Homo sapiens: one gene and its partner. The protein of the gene in region 1 interacts with the protein of each later gene in a pairwise test. Each region holds a gene or a part of one and is shown in the gene's direction. Other genes may lie near its edges.

Evidence for each region.
Region 2: the proteins of FAM234B (region 1) and ABCD4 interact in binary tests that used the Homo sapiens proteins (3 or more experiments, as listed by UniProt).

The regions. Positions count from the first base shown.
Region 1 is NC_000012.12:13,047,221-13,062,293, forward strand, and holds part of FAM234B (protein FAM234B), read left to right. Parts: intron 1-8,330; coding exon 8,331-8,726; intron 8,727-11,230; coding exon 11,231-11,329; intron 11,330-14,354; coding exon 14,355-14,543; intron 14,544-15,073.
Region 2 is NC_000014.9:74,277,862-74,292,934, reverse strand, and holds the end of ABCD4 (lysosomal cobalamin transporter ABCD4), read left to right. Parts: intron 1-65; coding exon 66-187; intron 188-292; coding exon 293-384; intron 385-558; coding exon 559-648; intron 649-2,435; coding exon 2,436-2,644; intron 2,645-2,816; coding exon 2,817-2,908; intron 2,909-3,415; coding exon 3,416-3,452; intron 3,453-3,649; coding exon of another isoform or gene 3,650-3,780; exon of another isoform or gene 3,781-3,823; intron 3,824-4,169; coding exon 4,170-4,219; coding exon of another isoform or gene 4,220-4,275; intron 4,276-4,675; coding exon 4,676-4,728; exon of another isoform or gene 4,729-4,731; intron 4,732-5,048; coding exon 5,049-5,125; intron 5,126-6,118; coding exon 6,119-6,234; coding exon of another isoform or gene 6,235-6,261; exon of another isoform or gene 6,262-6,405; coding exon 6,406-6,474; 3' UTR 6,475-7,666; downstream 7,667-15,073. UniProt on the Homo sapiens protein: Lysosomal membrane protein that transports cobalamin (Vitamin B12) from the lysosomal lumen to the cytosol in an ATP-dependent manner. Targeted by LMBRD1 lysosomal chaperone from the endoplasmic reticulum to the lysosomal membrane.

The DNA.
Region 1 (15,073 bases):
GCCAATATGACATTCATAAAGCCTGTAGGGCAGCTTATCTCCTAAGTATATATATATTTTTTTTCTTAGGCCATTTTAAAGTTTGAAGGTCAAACACTGGAGGGAATATCAGAGCAAAATGATTTTTTATGATTTATTTTGTTTGTGTAACTTAGTCTTTATATGCCCTTGGGTAAACTAACCCATGATATGAATTATTTACCTTTAGTTGCAGTAGAGTGTATTGTATAGTATATGCACAGTATAGTGTATACTATAGTATAGTATATGTTATAGAATAGTGTATGTTTTAGTATATTTCCTGAAAACGTTTGGGTATGGTATAGTTGCATCACTTTCCTATTTGTGTTTTCCTCTCTACCATTTTGGAAATCCTATTATATTTAAGCAGCATCTTCAGTCTTCCTAAGAGGAAAAGCAATAGCTGTGGAAAGCGCATTTATAATGATTTGTTATGAAATCAGTGCCCTCTCCCTTATTCTTTGAAAACCTTTCATTCATTAAAAATTTGGGTGGTGGCTGAAAGTAGCAAGGAAGCGAGTGAGTGCTAAGTGCCCTAAGCTTGGAAGCTGGATTTGACGCCTGGCTCCTCAGCCTGAGTAGGACTTAAGGCAAGTTGGTGGACTTCTTTTAAGGCAAGTTGGTGGACTTCTTTTAAGGCAAGTTGGTGGACGTCTTTTACTTCACGCTCTCTTATTGTCTTTCTGTAAATAGATAGAAAAAATATTATTAAAGACTTCTCTAATCAAAACTTGCAGTCTGTAATCCTTAAGCGGAGGTTTGTTTTTGCAGTATCTGAAAAAAAAATTAGTATAAAAGTATTTATTCCTCTCAAAAGGCTGGCCAAGAACTGGCCCCTAGTCTTCTGTGATGTAAAGAAAGCATAGGAATATGATAACTCAGAGCGCTTGTGTGCTTGTCTTTATATTTCGGTGATGTCATGGCTGGGTCAGAATGCTTGGACATCAAATTGCATGTTCTTTCTCTGAGGACTTTTTAGATATTGCTCCGCTATCTTTTAATAGTGTATGTTACTATGGAGAAATCTTTGCCTGATTTTTGTTCCTGTCATTAGTGACTTGATTCTTTTTCCTTTGGCCTGGCTGCTTATAGGATTCCTTCTTTGTCCTTGAAGTCCTGTGCCTTTACTAGGATATATTTCAGTATTGATTCTTCTGAATCAGTTTTTCTTGGGACTCTGTGTACTCATTATTCTGCAGTTTTAGGTCTTTATTGTAGGAAGTTTTTTTTGGCAACTCTTTAAAATACTGCTTTTGGTTCTTTTCTGTTTTCTGTTATCCTCTTTTCTGTTATCCTCTTTTCTGTTATCCTCTTCGGTCATGCATATATTGGCTCACCTTTGTTGTCAGTATCTATCACGTTGTTTCTAGTCTTTTTAAAGCCTTGATTTTTTTTCCACGGGATCATATGTAGCCCGTACAGACTTTGAAGCCAGACTGGTTTTGAATTGTTACCTATCACTTGCTGTTTATCTGTGGGCCAATGTATTAGTCTGTTTTCACACTGCTGATAAAGACATACTTGAGACGAGGCAATTTATAAAAGAAAGAGGTTTAATGGTCTTACAGTTCTGTGTGCCTAGGGAGGCCTCACAATCATGGTGGAAGGTAAAAGGCACATCTTACATGGTGGCGGCAAGAGAGAATGAGAACCAAGCGAAACAGGGTTCCCCTTGTAAAACCATCAGATCTCGTGAGACTTATTCACTACCATGAGAACAGTACGGAAGAAACTGCCCCCATGATTCAGTTATCTCCCACTGGGTCCCTCCCACAACACATGGGAATTATGGAAGTACAATTCAAGTTGAGATTTGGGTGGGGACACAGAGCCAAACCACATCCGCTAATTACTTAAACTTCCAAGCCTCAGCTTCCTCATCTTGAAAGTGAAGACAGTAATGTGTCTACCTCACATAGTTGTTATGAAGATTTACTGAGATAAGAATTTTTTTTTGAGACAAAGTCTTGTTCTGTCGCCCAGGCTGGAGTGCAGTGGCATGGTCTCGACTCACTCTAACCTCCGCCTCCCAGGTTCAAGCAATTTTAATGCCTCAGCCTCCTGAGTAGCTGGGGTTACAGGCGCCTGCCACCACACGTGGCAAATTTTTGTATTTTCAGTAGAGACGGGGTCTCGCCACGTTGGCCGGGCTGGTCTTGAAGTCCTGACCTCAAGTGATCTGCTCGCCTTGGCCTCCCAAAGTGCTGGGATTACAGGCGTGAGCCAGCACCCCTGGTCTGAGATAAGACATTAAAAGGGCTTGGAAGAGTGTAGGATAAGTGTTCAGAACTGCCAGCTGTAGTTATTTCCATTACATTTTGCTTGATTTTCACTAGTCTATTCTTTTTATGTCTCTGACTCTGTTTTCAGCAATATCTGTTCCTTTAGCTGATTCCAATAAGGATTTCTTTTCTAAAACTGGTTTGTTATTTTTTCCATTGTTTTCCTGAGTGCTTATTTCAGAGAAGACGATTTTCCTAAATTTCTCAGACTCCATGGGGAAGTATATGTTCATTATTTCTTCCATCTTGTGGTGTGATTTGTCCAGCATTTGTTTTTCAGCTAATTGTTTGTTATGTTTCGTTGTTACTTCTTTCTTGAATATTTGTAGAGCTTTGTGGTATCTTGTGGAATGAGTACTAAACATGGCTCCTTTCTGATTATTACTTATATTTAAATGGGGCGGTTGTTTGACAGCCTGGCTATTGCCAAAGGGGTGATCTAGGGCCGTTGGAAGCAAGAATGTAATCCAGGCCTGTTAAGTCAGCTGGCTCCCCACCAGCACTCTTCCTGTGTGGATGTCTCTATCCTGGCTAGGAGGAGGCTTTGCACAGGACTGTAGGCTGCTGGTTTGGCATTTCCTTCATTGACTTTGTTTTGCCAGTTATCAATTTATTGCATCTGAACTCCAAATTCACCTTTGTTGACTGATTTGTGAAAGTGGGTCTGAGCCCTTTTAAATATCAAGTTTGTCCTGCCTTGGATATTGTCTCTCAGTCCTAGGGGACCTTTTAGAGTTCTCTTCTCATCTTTATGTTTACTCTCCTGTCATTGCTTAGTAATTTTTTTTATGTTAAACTTGTCCTCTTTGAACTATTGTTTGGCTTCTGTATCCTGACTGGGCCCAGTCAGAGTGATTATGCCCAGTTACTTTTCTAACCTGCCGTCCTGACAGTGTGCTTTTTGTGAAGATGTCAGCTTGTACTTTTCCTCATTCGGTCCTACTTGGATTTGATTCTGTGGTGTTGAATGGGGCTCATTGGTGCTTCTGTGACCCCAGACTTTGTCTTTCCAAGCAAGCAATTACTGGTTTGGCTATATTTGTGGAACAAGGGAGGTAGTATAACTTGTTGGTTAGAACAACAAATGGACTCTGCAGTCAGATGCCTGGGTTTGAATCCTGGCTTTTCTTTTGGCTAGTTGTGTGATCTTAGTCATTTTACCTCTTTAATTTTATTTTTCTTGTTGATAAAATGGGGGATAATAATAATAATAATAATATCTACCATATAAGATTGATGTGAGGATTAAATGAATTAACACATGCAAAATGCTTGGATCAGTGCCTGGGACAGTAGGCACTCAATACACTTCCAGTTGTCATCATCGTCATCATCTTATTGTTGTCATGATTATTAATTCTGTGAACTCTGCTCATTGCTGAAGATCTGCAATATATGTGCAATATATATCTGCAAGATGTATTTGCCTACTCTTACTGAGCTTTCTCAATTGAGTACAAGTTTCAGTGCATTTAGTTCATAAATTGTGGTTTGGGAATGTGGCTGTTTCCTATTTTGTGTTCTATTTTTATTTTTCTGTATTTGTTTTCCTGGTTTTAGGGAAGACAGTGTGACAGAAATGCCCACTTTTGCCATCATTAACTAGAAGCATGTAATCTTGCTAAACAGACCAATCTGACAGCAGCTTTTTTCTCAAAGAATGCTTCAAATTGTTTTTATAAATTTCTTACAGATTTTATAAATTCCTGTAGCATATGCTTCTCTTCCTCCCTGCCTGTGATAGTACATAGCATGATAAAAATGAATTTCCTTTAAACTGTTTTGCTGGGAAGTGTTTTATTAATGATTTCACTTTGACAAAGGTGCTGTTTTTAGCCTGATATGTTTGTTGCAAGGTGGAGACTGACTAGCAAGATTGAATTTGATGTCGATGCTAAATTTTTCACTTGGTGCTAAAAATCCAATTGCACAATTATAGGGTGGCTTAAGCATGTGTTCAAAATGCTTGGAAGTTTTAATTGAATCAGTAGGTGATGTGAATGCCAAGAAAGCTCTCAAGATCTTACGTTATAGAAATTGAATTGTTGTTTGCTATCTGGAGTAGGTAGGAAATAGCTCTGCCCTCCCTTTCTCTGGTCAGACTGTACCTGGGATTGTATCTAGTTCCAAGAACCATATTTTAAAAAGCACAGACATATCACATTGTGTCCAGAGGAGAATGACCAGGATGTTGAGGACACCTGAAACAATGCTTCTTTAAGTAATGGGTTGAAAGAGGTGGAGGTGTTTAAGTTGGAGCTGAGAAGAGTGGGGGAGGGCACTGGGAGATACAATACTAGCACCAGTGATGGTAATGATAATAATAGAAGCTAAAATTTATTGTGTGGCTATAAGCCAGGCACTAAGAAGCAGACATATATTATCTTATTTGATTCTCATCACAATCATATGAGCTAAAAAGAATAATTATTCCATTTCATAAATAGGGAAATTGATGCTCAATAAAGTTAAGAAATTTGAGATTACATAGTTCATAAGAGATATAGCCAGGATTTGGCTTGATGTTTGATTGTGAAGACTTGAGCTCTTAAATACCATATCATATGTCTCTTATGATTGATACCTTTGAGTGTTTGAAGGACTTACATGTGAGAGAGGGATCCCAGAAATTAAAACTAGGACAGATAATTGGCAACTTCCCAGAAAAAAATTCTTGAATCAGTGTAAAGAATTGGTTTCTAGATTGGAGGCCAGTGGATTCCCTAATACAGGTTACATTCAGGTGTTTGCTAAGTAACTGGTTGATAGGTCTTTGTAAGTAGCTAGTTGTAAGTTTGGGATAGGGGTGGGGATAGATTATGTGATCTTTAAGGTCTCTTGCTGTGCTTTCTCAAGTAACTCTAGAGTTGAGAACTCTGTGTGCTTTCCTGTTTTTCAGATATATATATATATATTTAAACATTTTAAATTGTCAAAAAATACATACACCATAAAATTTACCATCTTAACTATGTTAAGTATACAGTTCAGTATTAACTGTATATGCACCCAATCTCTAGTACTTTTTCATCTTGCAAAACTGAAACTCTATACTTACTCAGTAACAACTTTTCCTTCTACCTCCAGACCTAGGCAACAACCATTCTACTTTCTGTTTCTGTGAGTGTGACTACTCTAGATAACTCACATAAGTGGAATTACACAGTATTGCCTTTTTGTGTGTGGCTCATTTCATTTAGCGTAATGTCCTCAAGGTTCATCCATTTTGTAGCAAGTGTCAGAAGTTCCTTCCTTTTTAGAGCTGAATAATATTCCATGGTACGTACATATCACATTTTGTTTATCATGTCAGGTGTATTTTAGCTAAAAAACAAAACAAGAACAAACAATCACTTTAAAAAGCATTAGAGTTAATATTATTCTAACAACCCATGGCTCTGTATGCAAATTATTATGTGTAGAGTTATCTGGGATGGTTAGGGAATGGTGTGCCCTAATTAACCAAATAATTTGGTTCATGGAGTAGAAATACAAATTGTAGGAGATTATCTGGAACCTGTACTGACCCCATGGCATATTCTGAAAGTACTATTTTGAATTAAGTTTCTAATAATTGATTTATTTTCTTGTAATTTGTGCCCTTAAAAATCAAGTCTAATATTTATTGGGCAAAATGTATAGTTTTGAAAATAAAAATAAATAGAAATAATTTCTAGTTATTAGGATGACAGATTATTCAGTATTTTCTTTGGATTTTTTTTGAAAGTACTTAATGTTATAATTCTGTGGAATGTTCATTTTAAAAAATCTAAAATTTATTGATTTTTTTAATGTACCAAATACTAACTTTAAACATCAAAGGTTTTACTTCCAACATCTGGTATTGGGGGAACCAGCCCCCAATATTTCAACGTAGGTTCTTTCTATTTTCCTTAAGTGTTGGCCGGTCTGAGAAATAAAGAGAAAGAGTACAAAGAGAGGAATTTTATAGCTGGGCCTCTGGGGGTAACATCACATATCGGTAGGTCCGTGATGTCCCCTGAGCCACAAAACCAGCAAGTTTTTATTAGGGATTTTAAAAGGGGAGGGGGTGTAGGAACAGGGAGTAGGTCACAAAGATCACGTGCTTCAAAGGGCAATAAAGATCACAAGGCAAAGGCAAAGTTAGAATTACTGATGAGGGTCTGTGTCCTGCTGTGCACGTATTGTCTTGATAAACATCTTAACAGAAAACAGGGTTGGAGAGCAGAGAACCGGTCTGACCAAAATTTACCAGGCTGGAATTTCCCAATCCTAGTAAGCCTGAGGGTACCTGCAGGAGACCAGGGCATATTTCAGTCCTTATCTCAACCACATAAGACAGACACTCCCAGAGCGACCATTTGTAGACCTCCCCCCAGGAATGCATTCCTTCCCCAGGGTATTCCTTGCTGGGAAAATAATTCAGTGATATCTTCCCTACTTGCACATCCGTTTATAGGCTCTCTGCAAGAAGAAAAATATGGCTCTATTCTACCCGACCCCGCAGGCAGTCAGACCTTATGGTTATCTTCCCTTGTTCCCTGAAAATCGCTGTTATTCTGTTCTTTTTCAAGGTGCACTGATTTCATATTGTTCAAACACACGTTTTACAATCAATTTGTACAATAGTGGTCCTGAGGTGACGTACATTCTCAGCTTATGAAGATAACAGGATTAAGAGATTAAAGTAAAGACAGGCATAAGAAATTATAAGAGTATTAATAGGGAAGTGATAAATGTCCATGAAATCTTACAATTTGTGGTTAGAGATTGCAGTAAAGACAGGCATAAGAAATTATAAAAGTATTAATTTTGGGAACTGATAAGTGTCCATGAAATCTTCACAATTTATGTTCTTCTGCCGTGGTTCCAGCTGGTCCCTCCATTTGGGGTCCTTGCCTTCCCGCAACAATCTGGTCTCCATATAGTGTTTTATTCTTTCATTTTATTAATTGAACAAACTGAGATATAATGTATGAAATGACATCACCAAGGCCATAGTGACCCAGAGGTAGACACTAGCATTAATAATTATTCTTTTCCCCTTTTTAATTAGCTGGGTTTTGTGGTCTTTTTTATATTTCTTCTGAACAAAAGATTTAATGATAGAGTTTACATTAGTGATAGATTACTGCATAAAGTCTCCCCAAAAGAAACATTTTCTTGGTTGTTACTTGGTGGTAACATGAAATAAAGGCATAAAATCATTCAGTCATTGGCAGTGAGGCCAAGGGGTGGGTGGCTTGGGAGGAGGTGTACCTAGGCTCTTCTGTAATTTCTCTCTCAGCTATCCCAAATCAACACTGCAAGCTAAGTAAAAACAAAGTGCTTGCCATGCAAAGCACCTTCAAGACAAGTCCCCTACCTCTGTGTACTGGCTAGATCACCACCCCTCCCAGAATACTTGCTCAGAAGAGCAGTTTTTGGGGTAAACACTGTTTACTAAAAGATAGACTGAAAGGGCATTCAAATCACAGGATGGTTCTTAGAAGTGAGATTTCAATACATCTTCAGATGAACATTCAGTGTTCAACTTTCTAAGTTGTTTCCATAGAAACAGTTGGGAAGCCACAGATATTGGGCTGTGAGAAGCAGCGTATGGAGAAGAATTGTTCTAAAAGTTTACCAGGAAAGATTAGGATGTCACAGATCTAAGAAGATCTGAGGCAATATGCACATTAGGCACATGGAGAGTTGATGTGGAGCCATGATCTTTTTCTTGAGTGAGATTCAAACACATTAAGAGAGCTTTCTTTTTAAACTAAAGGCATTTTAAATTTGCTAACTTCTGCCTCCTTTTCCATTGTCTTAAACTCATGCAGGCAGTGATCCTGGAGCACTGTGCTTTTGTTTTTCCTTCCATTCCTAACCCCTGCTTCACTGGCTTCTGTTTTACAGATAGCCACCAAGGTTCAAACTTGATGTAAACCTGGATTTTTTTGTTTTAGTTTTCCGTGTTCTTCTGGGTATTTACAGTTGCCATATATTTGGTGAGGGTGTCTTCTCCCCAGTTCCCCTTGACTCTCTGTTTTTCTGTATTTTCAGGGAAGAAGAGCCCAGACCTAGGGGAGTATGATCCACTTACCCAGGCTGACAGTGATGAGAGCGAAGACGATCTGGTGCTTAACCTGCAGAAGAATGGAGGGGTCAAAAATGGGAAGAGTCCTTTGGGAGAAGCGCCAGAACCCGACTCAGATGCTGAGGTTGCAGAGGCTGCAAAGCCACATCTTTCAGAAGTCACCACGGAGGGCTACCCCTCAGAACCCCTTGGGGGCCTGGAACAGAAGGCGGCCTCCTCCCTGGTGTCATATGTGCGCACGTCTGTCTTCCTGCTGACTTTGGGGATCTCGATGATCCTGGTGCTCCTGTGTGCTTTCCTGATCCCCTGTCCTCCCAGAGATCTGCACAGCACCTGGAGCCGCCACTTGGGCTCCCAGGGAGGTGAGCTGCAGAATCTTCAGCCCTAATCCTGTGAAACTTCATGCTATGTCTGATTACATTTAAATTTTCCTCCAAATCTTAAAACTTAATATGTGTCATGCGGCATTCCCCACCCTGCCGTCCCCACTGTGTGGAGGTGGCAAGGAGATTAAGATTTGAAAGAAAACAAACACCTCCAAAAACCTGGGAATCATTGCTCTGTTGTGTCTGTTGGCATTGGTCTTTATTAGATCCAGAGAGGACAGGGCTGGTTTGCTGGATTCCTGCTGTGGAGCCAGCACTGTATCAGGGGAATGCAAAGCTGTAGGAAGGGCTATTTACAGAGAAAAGCAAGGTTCAAGGCCTGGTTGCACCAGGGATAGAGCTCTTGCAGAACCCTTTGACATTCTTTGATGATAGAGGTCTGATCTAATTTAAATTATAAAATAATTTCATTTCCTGTAAAAGATAGTTGCTATCTTTTCTTTCTTGCTCCTCATGGTTAGGGCGGTGCTGTCTGAGTAATTCCAGCTATTCTGTCTCCTTTTTGGAGTAGGCTTCTTTAAAACCTCTTGCTCTGGAATGGGACTTACATCTCACCTGTGTTGAGTAGTCCTGTCTCTTGTGAACTGGATTAAGCTATCCTCAGACCCCTGGCATCCTCTTGATCTAGAAATGTTTATCTCTGCCACTTCTCTGATCCCAGTTGAATTAGCTTCTGATGAGTTCTGTGTTCTCATCTTTAGTTTCTCTGAAGGCAAGTTTCATTTACATATATTTATATACAGTTTAAAGGTAACAAATTGTTGGTGTGTCTACCACCCAGCTTTAGAAATAGAACATCATTGAGACCTTCACAATCTCTTGTGTGTCCCTCCTGACCACATCCTCCTCTGCCCAGCAAAGGCCTCTGCTATCCTGAATTTTGTGTTGATTATTCCTTTTTCTGTAAAGTTTTACCATGTCAATATGTACCCCTAAACTGTATATTCATTACTTTTGCTGGTTTTTAAATTTTACATGAATTTAATCATGCAGTCTTCTGTGAACTGCTTTTTTTTTTTTTTTTTGCGACAGAGTCTTGCTCTGTCACCCAGGCTGGGGTGCAGTGGCATGATCTCGGCTTACTGCAGGCTTCACCTCCCGCGTTCAGGTGATTTTTGTGCCTTAGCCTCCCGTGTAGCTGGGATTGCAGGAGCTCGCCACCATGCCTGGCTAATTTTTGTATTTTCAGTAGAGACGGGGTTTTGCCATTTTGGCCAGGCTGATCTTGAACTCCTGACCTCAGGTGATCCACCCACCTCGGCCTCCCAAAGTGCTGGGATTATAGTTGTGAGCCACTGCACCCAGCCTGTGACCTGCTTCTTTGTGCCACTTAATTTTTTGAAAACAATTTATTGAGATTCATCTATATTGATGCATTATACCTGGAGTTTATTCATTTTCACTACTGTCTGATTTTTCCATGGTATGAATATCTCATGATTTATCCATTTTTCTGTTGATGAACCTTTAAGTAATGCTTCCAGTCTTTTTTTTTTTAAATAAATAAATGATGCTGCTAAGAACATTTTTGTATATGTTTCCTATTGCAGTGTATAAGAATTTATCTAAGGCATAAACCTAGGAGTAAAATTGCTGGATCATACCATAGGGTGTGTGCATGTTCATTATTAGCAGTTTATGTTAAATTATTTTCCAACATGGTTGTACCGATTTACATTTCCACTAGCAATGTGTGAATTCTCTCCAAATTTGGTGGGCATCCTCTGAGTCCACACTTTTGGGTGGTGGGGGGATGGAAGTCCAGACTCCTCACTAGGCCTCTGCTGACACCACCCCCGTGGAGAGGAGGGAGAGGGCTGCCTTGTTGATGCTAGTTGGGGTGGAACTCCTTTGGTCCTGCTAGATGAGGATGACAGTCCTTGCCCCCACCTGGCTTTCTCTGACATGACCCTGATGGTGGTGGTGGTGGTGGGGTACCTTGTTACATCCAGGAGAGGGTGGGAGCCAGGCTCCACATTCAGCCTTTGCTATATGAGTGGGTGGAGCTGGGCTGATAATTTTATCTGTTTGGTTGGAGTAGAGCAGTTATTATCTACAACTTTCCTGTCTTGCTGGACTGCACCTTTCCTGGGCTTTTGGCTAGGGAAGGCAGCCTTTTCTGGGGCTTTTTTTGTCTGTATCTGTGGTGTTTCTGGGTTGCTGGCTTTTCCAGCACCCTATCTGGGTATTATGAGGCCAAAAGAAAACCCAGGGGACTCATCACCTTGTCATTCCTTGGGTCTTGCAGTCCCTAGCTGGTCTGCTTCCTTCTCTCTGCCTTTTAGAGTTGTCTTATGTTTGTTTTATGTACAGTGTCCAGGGCTTTTCCATGCACTTAGCAGGGGGAGTAGGGAGAGGTGTGTCTACTATACCTAGTCGAGGAACTGGAGTCTGCCTGGTGTTTATAGAGCTACTGGCAACAGAGAACTGGTTTGTGGTAACTTGCTCAGGACCTTTTTGGTTTTTTATGTGTATAACAGGTGGGGACCTGTCTCCATTGGAATTGGCTGATGTGAATGGAGATGGCCTGCGTGATGTGCTTCTCTCCTTTGTGATGTCAAGGAACGGGAGTGCAGTAGGTAAGAGACGTGTTTTTTTCAAGGCTGCTACAGGGGCACTGTCAGCTAGGAGAAAACATCAGAGCTGTGTCCCAAGTGGTACTGCAGAGAAGGATCTGCAGTGAACAGAAAGTTACCATGGTTCTGGCATACATGAAAACCCTCATCAGAAAGCTTCCACATATAAATAAAGCTCAGTCTAAGAAATCGGAGGGAGTTAGAGCTGGAAGGAATTTTTAGTGGTGACCAGGCCAGTGAAGAAACTGTGATGCAGAGAGGAAGTGACTTGTCCACACACTTTGCAACGAACAGTGTTAGTCCTCGGGTTCCTTGGGTTTTCTCCTGGTTTTCCATTGCCTCTTAGATTATAGTGAACATTGACTTTATGCTACCCTCCTATCCCTGGAAGAAAACTTTTGTTCATAGACTTATACATCTTTACACAAATACCTCTTGGCCGGGTGTTTTCCTTTCCCCCTTCAGTTTACACTTGTAGACCTGCTGTCCATCCTGCTCTCTGCATGGGGAAGCTGAGCTGTATGGATGGTATCAACAGGCTTCCTTGCCTGCTGGTCTCCTTTCAATGGGGAGCACAGCTCAGGAATGGGAGGGGAGTAAGAGTGTGAGGGGAGGTATTCACTCCCCTGGCTCCCTCCCCGCCGGGGTCACTGCAGAATGGCTGCTACAGCCTTGACCCTGGGTCACAGCTCGTTTCAAGGTGGCCCTCCTATAGGACTTTCCTTTTCTGGATTCCAGTAATTGCGTCCTCTCCTTGTGTCTTTGTTGGGGAGCCTAACAGTTCTGAGGGTCTGCACTATCACTTGTGGTGTTTCTACATGCTGGCCACATCTTTGTGAATAGTCTCCTTAAGAAACCGTCCACAACTTACCCTCATTTAGGGTGCTGTTTCTGGGATCCCAGCTTTTACACATGTCAGCTGTAGAAAAAGAAAAAATGCGTTCTGATTTCAGCCTAAGTACACAAGGCTTTTGGTTGATCCTGCAGCCTCCACTACAGTGGAGTCAAACTGCAGCCTGTGAGCTGATGCAGGGACCTAGTTTGATGCTGAGGATGCCCTAGTGACTGCTTTTAAGTCGTCTAGGCCTTGGAATACATGTCTAGGTGTGTTTTAGAGAATTCTAAACCACATCTCTTACATTAGTAGGAGTGGCTTTCTGAGGCCCACATGAGATGTGGAAGCAATCTGGGTGGAGATCTGCTGTAGAGAGCATCTCCAGCCTAGGAGTAGATTTCCGTGCAATCAAAACTTGATTACACTTTTCCTGCCCGTGACTTCTGAAGTAAAAATCTTCCCCATCTACTTAGATTTAGAGATGTTTTTAGTCATTTGGTATCTTACGTAGTTTGCTTCATACCAAGACTCATAATGGCAAGGCCATGGGTTTGGACACAATATGGACCAGGCTGATTTGGCCACAGACTGTACAAATAAGGATATAGCGAACATATGGTGCTTTCTATGTGTTAATACACCATTGTCAGCACATAACGTATGAAGGAATTTATCCTTCCACACAGTCCTGTGAAGTAGACCCATTATTATCCCCCTTTTGCACATGAGGAAGGTGAGACGTTGTGAGGTTAAAGAACTTGCCCAGTCCTACTGCTGGTAAATGATAGAGCTGGGGATTCGGATCCAAGGAGTCTGGCTCTGGAGTTCATGTCCTTGACCCTCATGCCAAGCTGCTGTGCCCATAACCCACAAAGCTTTGTGCTACTGGACACAGAGGGATTGAGTTTTTTGTCTATTCACTTGTTCCTTCATTCAGCAACTGTGTGTTGATACTAACTGTGCGGCAGCCACTCTGCACCTTCTCTAGAGTTCTGATGGTTACACACAGACTGCCGAACAAGAGGAGCCTGGCTTTGGCCTCGAGAAGTCATAGTCTAGCAGGAAGGGGTAATCCATCACCATCTGGGAAAAGACGAGTCAGAGCATTGTAGGATGGAGTAGGGTCCTCCAGTAGGAAGAACCACACAGGATAGGGATCCTAGCACCTTTGAGAAGCCTGGAAGTTACCATATACCACCTCTGTTTGTCATATATATCTTCTGGCAACAGGGTCTGAAACAGCCAGCCATTGTTTGTCACTTGTTTTTAGGTTGTATATTCAATTAGTCGTGCTGAGGAATAGGTAGAAGGAAGCTCTAAAAGTTTTGTTTCCTTATCCATATTAGTTGTTGCTGAAAGTGGGAACTGTATGAAATGAGTCACGTGTCCCTATCCTGAGAGTGAATGTGAAACTGACAAGGGAGAAAGTTCTGAGTCTGATGTAGTAATTAAGTGACATAAAGGCTTATTTACTAAGGATCATGGCTACTCTAATCCCTTACCAGCTGTACTTGGATCTAGGTATTAGGTCTTCCCAAATATTTTTTCCTGACTGGGACCAAATCAATTGATTCCAGAGAACTCTAGACTAGCAAGACCCACTCATCATTGCTATATGTAATCTTCAAGTTTATTTTTTCAAAAAAGAAAATATTTTTCTGCTCTCAGGAAGCATTTATTAGTGATGATTAGAATTCAGGTATTTTGCTCCCCGCGCTGCACACGTTCTGGATCAGTCTCATGTTTCCGAGCATATCTTTTCCTCCTGGTTTTTTGTTCTTAACTACTTTTTCGCATTCTTGATTTTGCTCCTGTCTCTTATTAGGCAAACAGTCGGTTGCTGTAGGTACAGAGATTAGTGAGACAGTCTTTCTCCTTAAGGATATCACCATTTAGTTGGGGCCGAGGTGGCAGACATGTAAAGAGTAGTGTTGGGAAAGGTGCAGAAGTGGAGATGCATTCGACAGTGTAGAGGAGGCCACAGCTCTTGTCTTACATGAGAAGCGTGTTCAGCAAAGATGACAGGCACTCTGTGTTCACATCTTGCTGCCAGAAGTGTGAGAGGGAGCTGAATACACAAGTGTGGTTGCTGCCTTACCACCATCCACTTGCAGTTTTCTGGCCTCTTGTTCATCTCTGCCTCTTATCTCCTTTGCCTGCTTTCCTTTTTTTATCTCTCTTGTGTGCTTTTAGGTGTCTCAAGACCAGCTGCTAATCTTGTATGCCTTTCGGGGATGAATGGCAGCACACTGTGGTCTAGTCTTCTCCCTGAGGAGGCTCGAGATATCACATGTTTGGAGCTGATGCCAGGAAGCTTGGCTGAAACCATCTGCCTTGTGACAGGGACACACAAGATGCTCAGCGCATTCAATGCAACGTCAGGTAAATACCATTTACCACAAAAGAACTTTGCTCCTACGAGCCATACTTTTGGATTAGAATAATCTGTTGGGTAGGGGACCTTTTGACTCTCACGTGGTGGAGTATCTGATTTACTGATCTGGAATATGGTTATTAAGAGAAATGAGAGAAAAGGTTTGGGCAGATTGAGTAAACAGATCCATGGTTCAACCTGTTTGGTGATAGGATGGGGCTGGAACTGAATTACCCAAACAGAAACTACCCTGAGGCCTTTGGTGTGTAAATAGTCTCCCAACTCTGTTCTTTGTACAAAAGACGACTGAACTTTAATTCTTCATATTTGGTATACATGGGGGCCATGTGTAAATTTGGCATTAACTACTTAAAAAAATACGTCAGTGAAGAAATAAAGGTTTGTTGAGGCTTGTTGACTGGCCTTTTAGCTTCTTACTGCATTCAGACATACATGACAAAAGGGAATGAAAAAGAATAACATGTCCTGAAGGCTCTTATAGAATCCTAAGTATATGGCCCATAGGCTTAGTACTGCT
Region 2 (15,073 bases), on another chromosome or scaffold:
AGGGTTGTGTCCGCTGTAGGGCATGTGGATGGTTCCTGGGTGTCTCACAGATGTGTTTTCTACAGTCGGCATCAACACCTTTGACTATCTGGGCAGCATCCTGAGTTACGTTGTCATCGCAATCCCCATTTTCAGCGGGGTCTATGGAGACCTGAGTCCCGCAGAGCTTAGCACCCTGGTCAGCAAGGTGAGACTCCCTCTTGGTCACCCCACATGCTGTCCCTCTCTGTCCTTGGCCCAGTGTCTGTGGGCTCGAGTCGAGACCTGCTTGACCTCTTCCCATCCTGTCCAGAATGCCTTTGTGTGCATCTACCTCATCAGCTGCTTCACCCAGCTCATCGACCTGTCCACGACGCTCTCAGATGTGGCTGGCTACACGCACAGGTGAGGCCGTGTCCCACCCCTCTGGCTCCTGAGCAAAGTGTGTGCTGCTGGCAGAAGTGGCTGAGTGAAAAAAGGAACAGAGACATACCATGTACTCGTGGGTGTGAGATAGGAAAAGGAGTTCACCTTCACCTGGCTCCCAGACCCTGCCTCAGATTTTCTTTTCTTGTTCAGAATTGGGCAGCTTCGGGAGACGCTTCTGGACATGTCCCTGAAGTCACAGGACTGCGAGATCCTGGGCGAGAGCGAGTGGGGCTTGGACACGTGAGTAGCGGGCTGGCAGAGCAGTAGTTGAGGCTGCAGGCTGTGGCATCACCTGGCTTGGGTTACCCTGGAGTCCTGCCCTTTCCCAGCTGGGCAGCAGAGTTGTAAGGAGTAAATGGAAATGGAATGCCAGGCACATGTAAGTTCACAGTCGATGTTGCTGTTCCGGCATCTGTTGTGTTAATTTACACCATTCCCCGGCCAGTGGAAGCAAAGTACACACACCTTCTGCCTGAGATAACAGGAATCTGCAGTGTCCTCCCCTTCCTGTGCTTCCTCCTCCCGCTGATTCCTCTCCCTGCCCCTTTCCTTGGGGCATGTCTGTCTTTGTTCCCCCACCTCACTCAGCCCCAGAGATGTCTGTATCCGTGTGTCTGCGTGGATCTGTAATATTTCTGTGCATTCAGGATTTGCTTGATCTCCACACTTTCCTTGGGCAGATTACCTAACTGTTCTGTTTCTTCATGTCTGAAAAGGAGGTCATAATGAACTTCCTTCACTTGTTGTAGGGATTAGATATCATCATCCATGGAAAGTGCTTGGACAGTGGCCACATCATAAGCTTTCAAAAATCAGTCTGAATTCCAGGGCCTACACTCAACTTGCTTTTCTTAGGAGCTAATACCTTAACTGTTGCTTCTGTTCCAAATGAAAGCTTCATGCAACCATGAGTGCAGAGGCTGGGCATGAAGGAGGGTCTGTAGGAAACTGGAATTGCTGTTCTGTGGGGAGCCAGGCATCCATGCAGAGGCAGAAACTCCAGAACCATTTAGCTTTAACCACTCCCATTCTTGTTATTAGTACTCTGGTCACACTGTGATGCCATGAAGACCCACCAGCATTAGAATTTGTTGAATACCGCTCTGCAACCTGGGCAGTTACTTAGCCACCTGATTCTTAGTGTCCTCATCTGTGATGATATTTGAGACTCATGGGCATTAGACTGAGTAAGATCAGTCCCATAAGGGGCTTTGTCCAGCCAGGCAGAGAGTAGAAGTTCCACCCCTACCCCTGTATTAATGTGCTCAGGCTGCCATGACAGAAAACCACAAACCGGCTGGCTTAAACAATAGAAATTAATTTCCTCACAATTCTGGATGCTTATGGTCCACGATCAAGTTGTCAGCAGGGTTGGTTTCTTAGGCCACTCCTTGGCTTGTAGATGGCCACCTTGTTGCTGTGTCCTCACGTGGCCTTTCCTTTATATGTGCGTGCCCCTGCCACCTCTATCTTAAGAGGACACCAGTCATATTGGATTAGGGTCCCACCCCAACAACTTCATGTTAACATCATCTCTTTAAAGACCCTGCCTCCAGCTGGGCACGGAAGCTCACGTCTATAATCCCACCACTTTGGGAGGCTGAGGTGGGCAGATCACCTGAGGTCACAAGTTCGAGACCAGACTGGCCAACATAGTGAAACCCTGTCTCTACTAAAAATATGGGCACGGTGGTGGGCACCTGTAATCCAGCTACTCAGGAGGCTGGGACAGGAAAATCGCTTGAACCCAGGAGGCGGAGGTTGCAGTGAGCTGAGATAGCTCCACTGCACTCAAGCCTGGGTGACAGCAAGACTTTCTCTCAAAAAAAAAAAAAAAAAAAAAGACCCTGCCTCCGAATGCAGTTACATTCTGAGTCACTAGGGGGCTGGACTTCAGCATGTGATTTTGGGAGGATGCAAGTCAGCCCATAATAATCCACAGGTGGTGGCTCCCGGGAGCAGTGCCTCCCCCACAGCAATACTGACCCTGCCCATCTTCCTCACGCCCCCTCTCTTCTCTGACACAGACCCCCAGGGTGGCCAGCGGCAGAGCCAGCAGACACAGCATTTCTCCTTGAGCGGGTCTCCATCTCTGCCCCCTCCTCTGACAAACCCCTAATCAAGGATCTGAGCCTAAAGATCTCCGAGGGACAGAGCCTGCTCATCACAGGCAACACGGGCACTGGCAAGACCTCCTTGCTCCGGGTTCTGGGTGGCCTCTGGACGAGTACACGGGGTGAGAGCCAGGCCCTCCCTGCCTCTGACCCAGCCTGGGCCCTAGGGGTGGGGTGAAGGCGGGGACGGTGTGGTAGAATCCATTCTTTTCTGTTGGGGAACAAGGAAGAGAGGAGACAGGCAGTTGCCTCTTCTGGGAGATCTCACAATGGAGGTTTCTGTGGGCTCTGCAGGCTCAGTGCAGATGCTGACGGACTTTGGGCCCCATGGGGTGCTATTCCTGCCACAAAAGCCATTCTTCACTGACGGGACCCTTCGGGAGCAGGTCAGTCTAGTTCAGGGGGCTCACTCCTCCCTCCTCAACCCCGCCCACCCACAGCTGGGACCTCTGGCACTGTGACAAGTCTCAGGTCCTAGAGTCAGGGCAAAAGGTGAGGTGGTGAAGTGGCCCGGGCCTGGGAACTGCTGGCTCTAAGAACCTTCTATTCACATCCATGGATTGGGCCCACTACTCATAGCAGCTCCTGAGGCAGGTAAATGGGGCAAGGACTCACGCCAAATACCACACGCGTATGTCAAACACCCAAGGTCGGATTCTGGGGCCCCTGCCCTCAGGAGGCTGTCAGACTGTTCCCCCTAAACACACTTCTGAAGGTTGTAGGGACCTTGCCCTGCTGTCTGCCGGCCAGAGCCTCTCCCATCTGACCCAGGCCAGGCGTTCCCACCTCTCCTCCTTGGGAGGTTCCAGTGGGTTCTGGAGGGAGGGTGGGCTGTGTGCAGCTCCGTCTTTTGCTCGCCCTCCTAGGTTGGTGTGGTTTTTTTCTTTTCTCAGGTGATATATCCCCTGAAGGAGGTCTACCCCGACTCAGGTGAGCTGGTCCTCCTTAGGTCATGTCCTCTCCTTCTGTCATGGTTGTCCCTGCTCTACCTGACTGTGGCCTCATCTGTGCCCTTGGGGAGAGGCTCCAGCCAGGCCGCTGATTCAAGGAAGAGGGGCTCCTCTCCTCTTCCTTTGACTGTTTTGGGGTCTGTACCCAGATCTCACCTCATTCTTTCTGTCCTTAAGGAGAGATGCCCACTGGGACAAGGAAAGTGATGCCTTCCTTCACCCACCCCTTCCCTTATGAAGATCTGCAACCTGTGGTTTCAAAGCCTTCGCCCAGCATTCTGAGGCCCCCACCCCTGCATCATCCATGATGTGCCCTGTCTATTCTTTTTTTTTTTTTTTTTTTTTTTTTTTGAGATGGAGTTTCACTCTGTCACCCAGACTGGAGTGCAGTGGTGTGATCTCGGCTCACTGCAACCTCCACCTCCCGGGTTCAAGCAATTCCCCTGCCTCAGCCTCTTCCGTAGCTGGGGCTACAGGTGCACGCCACCTTGCCTGCCTAATTTTTGTATATTTAGTAGAGACAGCGTTTCACCATGTTGGCCAGGGTGGTCTCCATCTCCTGACCTTGTGATCCACCTGCCTCGGCCTCCCAAAGTGTTGGGATTACAGGCGTGAGCCACTGTGCACAGCCTTGCCCTGTCTATTTTGACCAGCCAGGAGGCTCTGGCTTTTTGCAGAAGGCTTCTTTGTTGTGCAGGTTCTGCCGATGATGAGAGGATCTTGAGGTTCTTGGAATTGGCAGGCCTGGTAAGTGGGGAGAGGGACCCTCAGGACCCGAGCCCACCTGGGAGCACCAGCTACAGGTAGGCAGGTGCTGGCCCTGCTATGCTTGGGCCCAGGACTGGAAGTCTGAACCTGGGGTGGAGAATGGGAGTATCAGTTGACAGTGTGTGCTGTTGGCCAGGTTTAGGCACGAAGGGGGTAGTGCTCTCATTGGAGAATTTTAAAACAAGAATAGGATTGATGAAGGCGGTTTGCTTTTTACTGTCATCATGCTCCAGCAAGTCTAAACAGTGTCATTGGTAGAATATTCCTCTCTGCCTGGGGCAGACTGTCCCACAGTCCCCCGCCTTGGTATGCCACTGGGGCATATATTTGTCTTAGAGGTGTGTGTGTATGCTGGGGAGTGAGGGAGGTTCCCCATGATGGCAGGTAGCAGGGCTGGCCATTTCATGGACATCCTGCCCTCTGGGTCTGTTACAGTCCAACTTGGTGGCAAGGACAGAGGGCCTGGACCAGCAGGTGGACTGGAACTGGTAAGAAAAGAGCTTGGGTGCTCCAGAGATAGCCCCACCATAAAGACAGTGGGTTTCAGGGTCCCTGTCAAGGAATGGAACGGCTCCTGACCCCAAAGTCCAGATGTTTGGCTGGTCAGTCGGGTGCAAGTTTATGCCCTTGGGAACAGAGTTTTGCCTCACTCTGTGAGGGCTGTAGGCCTATGGTCGAAAGGGAAGGGGCTTCTGTCTCCTGGGGCTCACCTCTGTGCAGAGAAACCTCTTCCTACCCAGACCATTCTAGGTAAAAGCCAAGCTATATTCTTCCTCCTCTAGCAGTCCTCTCTCCTACCTTTCCTCAGGTATGATGTTCTGTCCCCGGGGGAGATGCAACGGCTCTCCTTTGCCCGACTCTTCTACCTGCAGCCGAAGTACGCAGGTGAGGTCTCGCCTTGTGGCTGCACATGCCATGCGCTGTCTGCACTCACGGGTGTAGCAGCATGTGTTCACAGGCACCCAGGCACACCTGTGAATGGCTGGGCTTCTCCGCATTCCCTGCTGGAGAGGACAGCAGGCCCTGCCCGTGTAAACAGTGCCTGGCATCGTCAGAGTTAACACTGAATATGCGGTACTGCCAGCTCATAAGCTTGCTTTTCTTCTGTTTTCTTTTTTCTTTTCTTTTTTTTTTTTTTTTTTTGAGACAGTCTCACTCTGTCACCCAGGCTGGGGTACAGGGGCACAGTCATGGCTCAGTGCAGCCTGGAACTCCCAGGCTTAAGTGATCCTCCCACCTCAGCCTCCTGAGTAGCTGGGACTACAAGCATGTGCCACCACACCCTGCTAATTTTTTTATTTTTATTTTTGTAGAGACAGGGTCATGCTATGTTGCCCAGGCTGGTCTGGAGTTCCTGGACTCAGGCCATCCTCCCACGTTGGCCTCCCAAAGTGCTGGGATTACAGGCATGAACCACTATGCCTAGCTCATAAGCTTTTTGCCTGGCAGCAGCTGGAGCCAGGAGCCAACATTGAAGGGTTATAATTTTATGCTCCTCTGGCTCCACCATCAAATGAATGGGCACCCATCCTCCTCTCCCACCAAGCTGTGCCTGGCAGGTGGATGGGTGTGGACTTTTCCAAAGACTGACATTCTTGCGGGGGACTGGGATTCCCTGGATTGAGTGGTCCCAGGGAGTGGCTGGTGCTTATCTATAGAAGCTGAGAGATTTCATGCAGCTGCTCACAGGCTATTCCCTTGGAGAGTCTGGCCCTCTGCTCCTCTGGCCCATCCTTCTCCCTGAGGCAGGGCTTCTGGAAGCCAGAGCAGCTTTCAGCCTCCCCTGGGTCCCAGCTGGGGTTGAGTATGGGTGGGAGGAGAAGCAGCGGCGGCAGAGGGCAGGGCTTTGATCTCTTCCTCTGTGCTCTGCCCCCTCAGTGCTTGATGAAGCCACCAGTGCCCTGACAGAGGAAGTGGAGAGCGAGCTCTATCGCATCGGCCAGCAGCTGGGGATGACGTTCATCAGTGTGGGACATCGGCAGAGCCTTGAGAAGGTACCCGTGCTCACAAGGATGGCCTGAGGAGGAGAAAGAACCCAAAGGCTCAGCCTGGCCAGGGCCAGAGGCCCCTCAAAACGGGGAGTAGCAGTAGCAGAGAGAACCGAGTGGCCTCCTCTGCCAGCGGCCAGGGCAGCCTGATCTCCATGTGGTGGTGGTCTCTTGTAGTTTCATTCCTTGGTTCTGAAACTCTGTGGAGGAGGAAGATGGGAGCTGATGAGAATCAAAGTGGAATGAAGCTCTGGCTTTTGGAAGGAGAGCCACACTGTGGCGGGTCGGCGGCCCTCAGGAGAGACCAGGAGGACTGACAGCGAAGATCGAGCTCAGGTTCGCCACATAGATCCCGTGCAGGAGCCACATGGGTCCTGTGCAGGACCCCTAGCAGTGGTGGGCTGAGCCCAGGTCTAGGTTTCTGTGGGGGACACTGAATCTCCCAGTGTTCAGTCTCCCAGGACTCTGCTGCCTCAGCCAGAGCCTCCATATGCTTGAAGTGCTGATTACCTACAAATGATTTCAGATCATGTTTGCTAAAGAGAAATCTGGAAGTGTGAGATCTGTAAGAAATGAAAGAAATGACTCTTGGAGTCAAGAGATCTGGAAATCTTTTAATCAGTTAAATTGTGCAGCAATAGATTTTTAACTTTAACTGACCATTTAAGTTTTTTAATAAGTTTTTTACAAAGAAAAGTTAAACATTAAAAAGAATTACAGCTTTCTGTCTTCTCTATCATGGAATGATCTTTTTTATTGAATCTCCAGATTTGTATTTGACAGCTTGGTGGGAAGGGAAGCACACTCTGCTGTTCTGGAATCTTATGCCCAGGGTTTTTCACTTCTCCCCACATCTCCCTTTCCACTTGCCAGTGTTGTGTAGTTAGAACCTGAACCACTAACTTCCAGGGGCCTTTGGTCTGCCCTACCTTAACCCAAATGAAAGTAAATCCCTTTCCCCTTAGCCAAAATAAGGTTGGGTTTTCTAAAAAAATAGTCTATATTAGGGAACAACAACAGCAAATTAGACAAAACCCAGAAAGCACAAAGCATGAGGTGGAGTTACTGTGCCCAAAGTCCTCACTCAGACCAGTGCCCCTCCAGTTCAGTTGTCTATGTATTACCTTCCTTACCTTCATAATTTTTGCCAGGCTTCTGTACTTCTAGTACTTGAGTTACTTAATATTTTTAAAAACAAACCTTTTAAGTTTAAATGGATTTTTAAGTGAAATTTTACACTTAACATAGATGGAAAGTAACTAAAAATAAATACAAGAAAAACCATCGGTGTTATTAACTTACGGCTAGATGCTGTTGCCTGCATAGACTCTGGGCCTGAGGCTTGTTCATTTTGTAAAAAAGAGAGGTGAGGAGTTAGACGGACTGGCACTCAACTGAGATTTTTCTCCTTAATAAAATCAGAAAGATGGAGTGAGAATTGTATTTTCTCACTGTAAAATATAAGATTATTTAACGCTTTCTTGGTACCACTTAAAAATGACTTACTCTATCCTTACTGACTTCTTCAGCTCCTAAGCCTTTTTCACAGACGCTGCTGCCGCTGCCAAGTTATTTTGTTTATTTTTATTTTTTATTATTTATTTTTGAGACAGTGTCTCACACCTCACTCTGTAGCCCAGGCTGTAATCTAGTGGCACAATCACAGCTTATTGCAGCCTTGACTTCCCGGGCTCAAGTGATCCTCCCACCACAGCCTCTCAAGTAGCTGGGACCACAGGCAGGAGCTCCTATGCCCAGCATCCAGATTATTTTGGAGACCAATTCATTCCTATCTCAGGGTCTTTGCATTTGCTGCTTCCTCTGCCTCTAACTGGTTTCCAGTGCTGTTCTGTTCTTAACACTTAGCCTTCTCCCTCACAGAAACTGCCCAAGAAAGCTACTCCTAGGGGCACACTCTGCACCTCTATCCCTCCCTCATGTCAGAGATGGAGACTACTCTTAGATGAGTCGACATAAACATGCGTGGAGGAAAATCAGGTCTTGTGTCCTTCATAGTACATTATGGACAAAATGTTTGTTTTAAATGCATCGTACATCAGCCAGGCAAATAGTTTCCCAAACTTAAGACCCATTTTGGCCACCCAGGAATCTACAGTGACCCATGTGGATGAGACATAAAGATAGCCATAGGTTTCCCATCACTCTTCTGGAGGGTTCTGGGCTGCAGGACAGGCAGAAAAGCCATCTTTTGTCATCTCTATCCACGTTGGCTTAACATGTCAATGTGTGTCTAGTAAAGGCAGCTCAAACCCAACATGTCCCAAACTGAACAAGAAGAGCTTTCCCTGGCCGGGCATAGTGGCTCATGCCTGTAATCCCAGCACTTTGGGAGGCTGAGGTGGGTGGATTGCAAGGTCAGGAGATCGAAACCATCCTGGCCAACATGGTGAAACCCCGTCTCTACTAAAAATAAAAAAATTAGCTGGGTGTGGTGGCACATGCCTGTAATCCCAGCTACTCGGGAGGCTGAGGCTGGAGAATCGCTTGAACCCAGGAGGCGGGGGTTGCAGTGAGCCGAGATCGTGCCACTGCACTCCAGCCTGGTGCCAAAGCAAGACTCTGTCTCAAAAAAAAAGAAAGCTTTCCCACTCACGCCTGTAATCCCAGCACTTTGGGAGGCCGAGGTGGGCAGATCACAAGGTCAGGAGTTCAGGACCAGCCTGGCCAATATGGTAAAACCCCATCTCTACTAAAAATACAAAAGTTAGCCGGGTGTGGTGGCAGGCGCCTGTAGTCCCAGCTACTCGGGAGGCTGAGGCAGGAGAATCATTTGAACCCAGGAGGCGGAGGTTGCAGTGAGCAGAGATTGTGCCACGGCACTCCAGCCTGGGCGACAGAGCGAGACTCCGTCTCAAAAAAAAGCTTTCCCCAGAGCCTTTTCTAGCATCTCCTCTGATGGCAAGTGGCGTTACTGTCCATCTAGCACATCACCAGGTGCTGTTGCTCTGACCCCATAAGTAAATCTTCCAGCCATTCACTTCTCTCACCTGCTTGAATCCTAGCTAGAAGCAGCTCAGAGGGAGCCAGAAAAATGAGAAAAACCACAAGGAGAATCGAGGAACAGGAGCCTGGACGGCAGCTGGACTCTGAAAAAAAGAAGTGTCAGGAGGCAGCCTGAGCCTGCCACGTAGGGGAATGTTAGTAACCAGTGGCACGGCATTCTGTGGGCTATGGGGCAGTTCTTGAAAGTGAGGGCACTTTGGTTTGCCGCACACCAGCCATGTCTGAGGCACCATTCTCAGTTCCAGGGTTACAGTGGGGAGCAAGATGGACCTGGCACCTCTGCTGGAGCTCGCGTGTTCCATGTGGTACATGGTGGGTCTGAAGGCAGAAAGCAGCAGGAAAACACTGGGCTCAACTACAAGTGGAAAACATTTACAAAATCGTATGTCTGTTGTGATACTGTAGCAGGTCTTCTTGAGCTGCCTCTAGAACTCGAGCATTCTAGCATTACCCAAAACATCAAGTCAAATACAAAACCATGGAAGACTATTACAGAATGTTACCAGATGGTTCGTGAGTGTGTAGGGAGTCCTATTTCCTGCTGCAAAGCAAACCATCTTTTTTTTTTTTTTTGAGACGGAGTTCACTCTTGTTGTCCAAACTGGAGTGCAATGGCGCAATCTCGGCTCACTGCAACCTCTGCCTCCCAGGTTCAAGCAATTCTCCCGCCTCAGCCTCCTTAGTAGCTGGGATTACAGGCATGTGCCACCATGCCCAGCTAATTTTTTTTTTTTTTTTGAGACGGAGTTGCTCTGTCCCACAGGCTGTAGTGCACTGGCGCAATCTCAGCTCACTGCCAGCTCTGCCTCCCGGGTTCACGCCATTCTTCTGCCTCAGCCTCCCAAGTAGCTGGGACTACAGGCGTCCACCACCACACCTGGCTAATTTTCTGTATTTTTAGTAGAGATGGGGTTTCACCGTGTTAGCCAGGATGGTCTCGATCTCCTGACCTCATGATTTGCCTGCCTCAGCCTCCCAAAGTGCTGGAATTACAGGCGTGAGCCACCACGCTTGGCCGTATTTTTTTTTTTAGTAGAGGCAGGGTTTCACCATGTTGGCCAGGCTGGGCTCGAACTCCTGAACTCAGGCAATCCACCTGCCTCAGCCTCCCAAAGTGCTGGGATTACAGGTGTGAGCCACTGCGCCTGGCCTGCAAACCATCTTTAAAATCCCCATTATCTTTCCCTTGGTTTCACTTCTTACACAGCAGCCTGTGTCTTCTCTCCTTCTCCTGTATCTCCCCTGCAATCCCTTTAACCCCTCCGAAAGGATTGGGTACTGGAGGGGACAACTTGGATTCCGGGACAGATTATCTCAGGAAAGACCAGGGAGGATGGAAGTGATCTTAGCTTTTGAACAAAAGTTCATGAATGCAACATCTGTGGGGCAGGCACTGCAAACAGAAGTCCTCATAAACAGCTGCCACACCTCCCCTGCATCCAGCATTTTGGAGACATTTTTTCATTTATGTATATGTGTATGTATGAGTGATGGGGTCTTTCTCTGTCGTCAGGCTGGAGTGTAGTAGCACAATCATAGCTCACTGCAGCCTCGACCTCCTGGGCTGAAGCAATTCTCCTGCCTCAGCCTCCTAAGTAGCTGGAACTATAGGTGTGCGCTAGCACGCCCAGCTAAATTTTTTTTTTTTTTTCTTTTGTGGAGATGGGGTTTCACCATGTTGCCCAAGCTGGTCTTGAACTCCTGGGCTCAAGCAGTCCTCTTGCCTCGGCCTCCCAAAGTGCTGGGATTACAGGCGTGAGCCACTGTGCCCGGCCATTTTCTTTTTTCTTTGTAGAGACGGGGCTCTCACCATGTTGCCCAAGCTGGTCTTGAACTCCTGGGCTCAAGCCGTCCTTTTGCCTCAGCCTCCCAAAGTGCTGGGATTACATGCGTGAACCACTGTGCCCTGCCCATTTTTTTCATTTAATTGTCACCACAGACCTAGCAGCAAGGAAGGCTGCAGGGCTTGGGCTATCACTGATGGGGCTGTCAGAGGTAGGGTCCTTGAGTCCTTGCAAAACAAAATGCCTGGGGGTTCTGCTAGGTGTGGAAGAAAGACAGGGACTGAGGAAGGTGAGCTGGTAACCTGGCCACACGGACCAGGCCAGTTGAGAAGGAAGCAGAGTGGGAAAGCCTCTGGGCAGAGGAAGGAGGGAGGGAGATGCTTCTCATGGGCAGAGGATAAGGAGCCCCCAAGAGACTCGGGCTGGCCACTCTGGTCATTTTGAGGGTAACAGAGACTGGAAGGTCACCAATAAGCCTCTGTTCCTGCCATAGGCCAGAGAGAGCTGTGCTGTGTGTTCTGTGTCCACAACAGAGCTGAGCTTGTCGGTCCAGGAAGCCGGAGAAACACAATGCCAGTTAGTCTCTGTAAATGCTGCCTTTCTGGAAGCACTGTCCTGTTGGTGCCAGGAGCTCCTGGCTGATGCTGTACTTGGATTTTGGGACAATGAATGTTCCTGAGCTAATCCCTGGGACAGAGAGGACCCTGTGGAGGCACATGTAATTGTTGGGACAGCCTGCCCTTGGAGAGCAAGTCAGCTGAGAGGGGGGCCAGTACCCTTGTGGGAGGCTGCAGCAATGCCCTCCTAGGGGGTGGGGAGAAGCTTAGCTAAACCCTGGCCCTGGGCATCAAGCAGGAGGACATGGGCTAGGGAACATTGACCTTGAGCCTCCAAGCAGGGTGAGGCTGGCCAGGGTGGGCCAGTGGATTTGTTCATCTGTAGGTAGGAAAGAGTCTTGAAGGTCGGAAGCCTCAGGGAAGGCTCAAGTTCAGGGCAGGACAGAGGGGTTCATTTGTTCTTAGCTCCTGGCATTCAAGGAAATCTCTCAAGGCACTAGCTGAACAGAGACCACACATGACAAGGATTACTGACTTTGCAAAAATAGTTTGGTAAAGTCACCAAACAAAGAGGCAACTACAGCCTTCAGCAATTAAAAACAGTAAACTGGGGAAGGAGGAGAAACTGATTTCTAGGGTTGCCATATTATAATATTCAAATGTCTAGGTTTCTTTTTTTTTTTTTTTTTTTTGAGACGGAGTCTTGCTCTGTCACCCAGGCTGGAGTGCAGTGGCGTGATCTCGGCTCAGTGCAACCTCTGCCTTCCAGATTCAAGCAATTCTCCTGCCTCAGCCTCCCGGGTAGCTGGGATTACAAGCGCGTGCCACCACGCCCAGCTAATTTTTGTATTTTTAATAGAGACGGGGTTTCACCATGTTGCCCAGGCTGGTCTTGAACCCCTGACCCCAGGTGATCTGCCCACCTCGGCCTCCCAAAGTGCTGGGATTACAGGCATGAGCCACCACGCCTGGCCTTCAAATGTCTAGTTTTCAATAACAAGTAGAACCTCACAAATTATACAAAGAAATAAGAAATGATGGTCCATTCAAGAGGAAAAAAGTTGACAGAACCTGTTTCTAAGGAAGCCTAGACATTTAAATGTGCTCAAAGAGCTCATGGAAAGCACGGGCAAAGAACTAAAGGAAAACAGAAAAATGAGGTACAAAATGAATATCAAGAAAGAGACAGAAATTATAAAAAGGAATTCAGGCCAGACACAGTGGCTCACGTTTGAAGTCATAGCATTTTGGGAGGCCAAGGTGGGTGGATCACCTGAGGTCAGTAGTTCAAGATCAGCCTGGCCAACATGGCAAAACCCCGTCTCTACTAAAAATACAAAAAGTTAGCTGGGTGTGGTGGTGGGCTCCTGTAATCCCAGCTACTCGGGAGGCTGAGGAGGGAGAATTGCTTGAATCTGGAAGGCAGAGGTTGCACTGAGCCAAGATCGCACCACTGCACTCCAGCCTGGGCAAAACTCCATCTAAAAAAAAAAACAAACAAACAAAAGGAATAAAGGAATCCAGTAGAGCTGGACCTGAAAAGTATAGCAACTGAAATAAAAAATTCACTAGAGGGGTTCTACAGCCGATGAGAACAAGCGGAAAAAAAAGAACCAGCGAACCTGAAGACAGGATGATTGAAAGTCTCCAGTCTAAGGAGCAGAATGAAAGAAAGTAAGCAGAATCTAAGTGATTGTGAGACACCGTCAAGTGGAACAACATCCTGAGACTGTGGGACTCTTGGAAGAAGAGAAGAGGAAGGGGAAGGAAGAATATTTGAGGAAGTAACAGCCAGAACTTCTCGAGAGTGAAAGGTAGAAAATATTTGCAAATCAGAAATCTGATAAGAGTCTAGTATCCCAAATATTTAAAGAACTCTTACAACTCAACAATAAAAAGACAATCCAATTTAAAAATGGACATTTCTCCAAAGAAGATATATAAATGGCCAACAAGCATACAAAAAGATGATCAACATCATTAGTCATGAGGGAAATGCAAATAAAAACCACAGTGAGATATTTCATACCCACTAGGGTGGCTATAATTTAAAAAACAGAAAATAACAAGTGCTGATGAGGAAATAGAAAATTGGATCTGGGCATGGTGGCCCACATCTGTAATCCCAGCACTTTGGGAGGCCAAGACGGGTGGGTCACCTGAGTTCAGGAGTTCAAGACCAGTCTGGCCAACATGGTGAAACCCTGTCTCTACTAAAAATACAAAAATTAGCACAGAGTGGTGGCACACACCTGTAGTCCCAGCTACCCGGGAGACTGAGGCATGAGAATCGCTTGAACCTGGGAGGCAGAGGTTGCAGTGAGCCAATATCGCACCACTGCACTCCAGCCTGGGCAACATAGCAAGACTCCGTCTCAAAAAAAAAAAAATTGGAACCTTTGTACATTACTGGCAGAAATGTAAAATGGTGCAGCCACTATGGAAAACATTCTGGTAGTTCCTCAAAAAGTAAAATAACTACCATATGACCTGGCAGTTCCATTCAGGCATATCTCAAAAGAACCAAGGATGGGTACCCCAACCAATACTTTTATAGGAGTGTTCATAACAGCACTATTCACAATAACCAGAAAGTGGAAACAGCTCAAAAATGTCCATCAACAGATGAACTGGCACTGGCTCTATCACTGGATTTGGTGCTGAAGCCGCTTCTAGCTCTGCAGCTGGCACTCATTCTGGCTTTAGCTTGGGGATGAGTGCTGTGGTGGGTGCTGGAGCTAGCTCCTGCTTTGTAGCTGGTGCTGGCACTGGCTCTACTGCTAGTGCTAGACTAGGTGTCAGAACTGTCTAGCTCTGGAGCTGGATCTAGGGCTGGTGCTAGAGCAGGAGCAGGCTCTAGCTTCAAAGCTGCCATTGGAGCTGACTCTAGCTCTAGAGCTGACACCAAAGCTGAATATAGCTCTGTGGCTGGCACTACAACTGGCTTAAGCTCTGGAACAGGTGATGGAGCTAGTTCTAGAGCTAGCACTGGCTTTAGCTCTGGAGGTGGTGCCAAAGCTGGCACTTCACCTGGCCTAGGCTCTGGAGCTGGTGCTAGAGCTGGCTCTAGCTTCTCATCTGGTGCTGGAGCTAGTGATGGAGCTGGCTCTAGCTGTGCTGCTGGTGCTGGAGCTGGCACTAGCTCTGGACCTAGAACTTCCTTTAGTGCCAGCGTTGGTGCTGAACCTGCTTCTGGCTCTGGAGCTGGCACTAAATCTGGCTATAGCTCACGAGTGGATGCCAGAGTTGGTGCTGGAGTAGGTGCAGAGCTGTCTGTAGCTCTAGAGCTGGAGCTAGTGCTGGTACTAATGTTGACACTGGCATAGGAGCCGGAGCAGGCTCTAGCTTTGGAGCTGACTCCAGCTTTAGAGCTGACTCTAGCTCTGGAGATAGCACTGGATCTGGAGCTGGCTCCTGAAGTTGAATGTAGCTCTGGAGTTGGCACAACAACTGGTTCTAGCTCTGGAGCTGGTGCTAGAA